2 separate regions of the Homo sapiens genome follow, and region 2 is linked to region 1. The links come from fine-mapping of genetic effects on gene expression. A gene starts in region 1. The other region holds a variant in brackets. All regions are shown on one strand. Distances are between the middles of the regions. Region 1 holds the start of PBX3 (PBX homeobox 3). Region 2 holds the start of LOC105376272 (a long non-coding RNA gene).

Region 1 (2,500 bases):
TGTGAGACCACAGGTTCCCACCTTAACTGGTCACCCATTGAGGGACAGCACAAGACCCCGGTGCTGGCGCCAACGCTGAGCTGCGCCCTCTCGGTTACCATGGCGACCGCAGGCGGGGCGAGGCCCCCACTCGCCGCTTCCCCGCCTCTGCCCAGAACCTTTCGAACGCTCCAATTGGGACGACCCTTTCTTGCCTCTGTCCCGCCCCATTCGGCTCTAAGCGCTTTGCGATTGGCCCGGGACGAGCGGCCTGGTACCCAGAGGGCACCACCTCCTGACAGGAAGAGCGGGAAAGTGCACCAGGAGCTGTCCGAGGCGTGAAGCTCACGGGCGCGGCGGGGGAGCACACGGTTGGCTTTGCAGCGAGTTGCCCACTGTCCCATACACAACCCCCCGCTCCCATGACTGCCAAAAGCATGGAGCAGGAGTCGGGGTGCGGGCACACCGTTTGTGGGCCGGCCCGGTCTATCCCGGGGGGCTAGGACGCGACGAGGTTGGAGCGAGGATCCGGCGGCACACTCCGGAGCGCGGAGTATCAGAGGCCAGAGGGAACGGGCCGGGCCCCGGGGGCGGTGCCGGCGGCGGCGGCGGGAGGCGCAGAGCCCAATGAGCGCGCGCACCGCCCCGGGGGCGGGGTCTGAGGAGCGCTCCCCCGCCCTTGCCAGCCCCCGTCCCTCCCCCCGGCGCGGGGCCGCAGTGAGTGAGTGGCACTGGCAGCCTGTCAATCCCTCGGCCCAGCGGCCTTCCAGCCCGGTCCGCGGCGGCTGCTGGCTGGGTGCGCGGCTCCGGCGGCGGCGGCGGCGACTTCTCCCGCCCTATCCATCGGCTGTCCGCCCGGCGCGCGGCCCGCCGGGGCCCTCCTCCGGGCTCAGCGCCCCCGCCGCCTCTGCCCGCCCGCTCCCAAACTTTCCTCCTCCGCCCCCCCTCGCTCCCCGCGGCCCGCCCGCAGGCCTCCTCCTCCGCCGCCGCCCGCCGCCGCCGCCGCTGCCTCCCCCGGGGCCGCCGGGGCTCGGATCCCGCCTGGCCGAGGCGGCGGCGGCGGCCGAGGAGGGCAGTGCGCAGGCTGGCGCGGGGGGCGGCGGGCGTCCCGGCAACTCGGCGGGCGCTGAGGAGCAAGTTGCGCGGGGCCGCCCGGCGGGGCGCGCGGCGGCGAGGAGGCGGCGCGGCGGCCGCGTGAGGGCAGCGGGCGCCGCCGCCTCCGCCTCCGCCACCGCCGCGGAGCCCGGCGCTTCCGCCCGCCGCTTCTCCTCAGCCTCGGCGGCGGCGGAAGCCGGAGCCGGGCGCCCGTCCTCATCGCCTCAGCCGCGGGCCCTGCCGGCCGGGCCGCCCCCTCCCCGCGCGGGCGGGGAGCGCGCGGCCGCCTCCCCCTCCCCCTCCCCCTCTTTCTTCTCCTCCCTCGTCGCCGCCGCCGCCGCCGCCGCCTCAGCCTTCGCCTCAGCCGCCGCCCGCTCCCGCCCGCGCGCGGCGGGATGGACGATCAATCCAGGATGCTGCAGACTCTGGCCGGGGTGAACCTGGCTGGCCACTCGGTGCAGGGGGGCATGGCCCTGCCGCCTCCCCCGCACGGCCACGAAGGGGCGGACGGCGACGGCAGGAAGCAGGACATCGGCGACATCCTCCACCAGATCATGACCATCACCGACCAGAGCTTGGACGAGGCGCAAGCAAAGTTGGTGTCGTCTCATTAAGCATCTTTTGTGTGTGTGCGGGAGCCGGGCCCGCGGCCGAGTCGAGGCCCGGGGTGGCGCCCGGGGCTAGGGCCGCAGCCCCCGGCGGGGAACTTTCTCCGAAAGCCGGCCGCCCGCCCCGGCCTCGGGGGGACTTGCCCGCGCCCCCCGAAGCGGGCGGGAGTCGGCAAAGTTGCTCTGGGGGGCTCGGGACGGACTCGGTGCGGCGCGGATTCCGTGGCGTCCTTTCCCCCGTCCTGCCCCTCGCAGCCCGGCCCCCTCCCAGGGATTTAAACCTCCCGCCCCGACCCCGTGCGGGCCGCGCCGCCGGGAAGTGTAACTTTCTCCTCCGGCGGGGAGTCCCGGCGCCGGCTCCCGCGGCCGCGGGACGACCTCGCGATGCGGGCGGCCACCCGGGCCCGGCGCGGGGCGATGGGCGGTTCCCTGGCGGGTCCGGGTGCGGACGGCCAAGTTCTCGGAGAGGGAGGGCCGCCTTGCAAACTTTGCCGAGCTGTCACCCTCCCGCTGGCCGCAGTCGGCCGGCCTCCTCTGCACAGGAGCGGACGCGGGAGCCCCTCCGCACCCGTCCCCTCCCCCGGGTCGCCTTCGCCTGCCCCCGGGGCGAGGCTCCCCGCGCGGGTTCGCGTCGCGTCTGCAGTGGCCGAGGCTGCTGCCTGCCGGGCAGATGGGTCCGCCTTGTTCCGGCTGCAGCTTTCGCCGCCGGGGCTTGCTGGCTGTCGGGAACTAGTCAACTGGAGTTTTTGTTGACTTCCCACGGTTCAAAAGGGCCTTCCAGAATGGGGGGCTGGAATTAAATCTTGGGTCTAACTTAA
Region 2 (3,014 bases), 180 kb before region 1:
ACTCAGTGAGTCTGTCATGACTAAGAGATATTTATTATAAAAAACAAGTAATAAGGACAAATTAAAATTAATGGAAACTGTAAATTTGCTAAATGGATTGATAACAAGAAAGTAATCTAGCTATGTTTGTCACTTTACATTTCAGGTATTTGTAATGCTGTTAAGATATTTAAAATTCATCTTTGAATGGCATGGGAAACTTTTGGATCTCTGCAGCCGGGTACTAACTTAAAAACAGAACAATTAGAGAGGCAAAAGAAAGCACTTTGGATGAGGAAAATGTCATGGTATACTGGCTAAGAGAGCTCTGTGGTCAGAACGAGTTCAAATTTCAGCTCCATGGCTCATGGCTATGTGATTTCAGAGAATAAGCTTCACCTCGAGTTTCAGTTTCCACTTCTATAAAAAGGGTATAATCGTCCCTCAGAGATTGTAAAGATTAGATCAGATAATATATGTAGTGTCTGGCATGTAACAGAAGTAAAAAATAAATGGGAAGGTAACTATAATAAGAAAGTCATATGGAAACTAACTTATAGTTGCACCAATCCTTAAACACAAATTGTGGATGCATATTAAGCAACAATGCATCTGAGCAGCATGTTCTATGTACACACAACTGTAATGGGAGTCAACATGTCCACTGTGTTCCAACCTTGGAACCTTGGGTCACTGAGCCCCCAGGGTTTTATGAACAGGGCAGACATGGATGGAACAAGCAACAGACAGCACAGATTATTTATTGCCATGTAAATCAACCTGAGGAATGTTTGATTCTCCAGCATCACAGAGGTTCAGGGGCAAATAATAAGCCTATTGATCAAAGCAGAAAAGTCCAACAATGATATCAGAAGAATTCTGCTTTGATTGTTAAGGGACATCCCCAAATCCTCTCAAAACAAATTCAATAAATATCACAGGCTAAGATTTGAGATGCAAAAGGTTCACTGCCAAGTGCTATTATTCTCCCCAGTTCTTAAATATGAAGTGTGAAATCATTCATTCAAAACACATTTGTAAAGTGCCCCCCTGGGCTGTGGCCTGTCCTGAGCATCAGGAACAGAGGAAGGAAAAGAAGACTGATTCCTGCCATATTATACAAGATGAATAGAAGCCTCTTCTGGGTCATCAGTAAAGTCTAGCAGTAAATAGTGCTCCAACTCCTCTGACCCCTTAATTGAAAATCTGAGGAGATAATGACTAAAATTCTATATTCTACACATGGACATACTGGTTCCTTTGGTGCTTTTATAAAGGAATCATTAGTAAAAGAAGCTACTGTGATATTTTGACTTCTAAAACTGCTTCAGGACTCCAAATTAGTACTAGTACAATACCAGCAGTATCATTAGCTACATTTATTGAGTACTATAAGCCAGACACTCTGCAAA[G/C]CGGCTTAGATATATAAGCTCACTGAAACTTCACATCAACTTTGTAAATGAATCATTTATATTTCTATTTTACAAATTAGATAACTGAGCCTCAATAGGATTAGGTAGCTTGCTCAAGATTAAACAGCATGTAAGTGACAGGGCTGAGATTCAAATCCAGGCAGCCAAGAGCTGTCCCTCTTGACCCCCACCCATTCCTCTGCCAAAGCCACAGTGTGTCAAGACTTCCTGAGGCACTTGAGAACCCAATCACCTATGGAAATATGACACACTTTGATGAGAAGAAGGAAACCATGACATATTACTTATAAAAAGTTAGATTTAGTTCAACCTCCTTGCTTTTACAGATGGGAAATGGAGGCAGAGAAAAGAGGGATAACATGCTCATGATCACCCAATTAAACAGAGGCAAAGCTGGTCTTGAAAACTCTGGTGTCCCCACTTCTTGTCCATTATTCTTTAAACAAATAAAAAACTGGTGGACTTTGAAATGGGGAGAGAAAAGAAAGGGGGCAGCTCTGGTCCCTGCCTCAGGAAACCCCCCGATACAGACATCTCAGAGTTTACAACACAATGGAAACAGGGGCACTTCCCATGACACAGCTTGGTGGAAAGAACAGGGATTTTGCAGACACAACTGGTTTTAATGCTAACTCAAATTCTTAGACCAAATCTCTTTGAGCTCCATTTTCTTATCGGAAAAACAGCTTTCCTTGATTTCTCTAGGAGAATAGCTTGGATCTCCGAAATTCAAGCAATTCTCCTTTGTGGTCTTACAAAATTTGGTCAATATTTCTGTATATCACTAATCATATTGCTTTTTCCTATTTCTGCATCTGTATTCTAAAGAGCAAGGATTCTTCTATTATCTCTCCATACTTACTAAAGAGTAAAATGACTGGCATTTAGAAGGTACTTAACAAACATTTGTTGAATAAATGAAGATATGAATGTGTAGACTCAATCACTCTATGAAGAAAGCAAAGGGTATTATTATTATTATTATTATTATTATTTTTGAGATGGAGTCTTGCTCTTGTCACCCAGGCTAGAGTGCAATGGCACGATCTCTGCTCACTGAAACCTCTGCCTCCCAGTTTCAAGCGATTCTCCTGCCTCAGCCTCCCAAGTGGGATTATAGGTGCCTGCCACCACACCTGGCTAATTTTTGTATTTTTAGTAGAGACAGGGTTTCGCCATGTTGGCCAGGCTGGTCTCGAACTCCTGACCTCGTGATCCACCCGCCTTGGCCTCCCAAAGTGCTGGGATTATAGGCGTGAGCCACCATGCCCAACCAGCAAAGGGTATTATTAGTGAGGTATGTGTTAATGAGAAGAGGGAAAGTAATAACCTTCTTTTTGTGTTCTTGCTTTTCACAGTGATATCTGTTAACCAAATAGGGCTTTCTAGGCAATGCACATGTGTCAAAGATTGTAATTCAAGACTAGAGGAGAAGGCAGCACAGGCAAAGGTGAGGATGAAAGGGGAATTTTTATAGTCCATCAAGATATGAATACTGGCATCTCACTTTTTATGGAGAAAAAACAGAAATGATGATACTATGTAAAAATTTTCAATTGTCACACATGAAAAGACTAGAAATAAATGTAATGTACCAAATGG

Evidence for each region. PIP is the estimated chance that this variant, and not a neighbour inherited with it, causes the effect.
Region 2: its variant is fine-mapped to the expression of PBX3 in skeletal muscle (FUSION, PIP 0.95).

Annotation. Positions count from the first base shown.
Region 1 is chr9:125,745,985-125,748,484 of GRCh38, forward strand. PBX3 (PBX homeobox 3) reads left to right here and starts at 1,389. Exons shown (of 9, transcript NM_006195.6): 1 at 1,389-1,669. The coding sequence starts at 1,470. RefSeq lists silencers at 484-913, 1,164-1,213, 1,224-1,753, 2,024-2,363.
Region 2 is chr9:125,561,324-125,564,337 of GRCh38, forward strand. All of the region lies in intron 5 of MAPKAP1 (MAPK associated protein 1), which reads right to left. LOC105376272 (a long non-coding RNA gene) reads left to right here and starts at 2,412. Exons shown (of 4, transcript XR_007061777.1): 1 at 2,412-3,014. The variant G/C (reference allele first, on the strand shown) is at 1,392.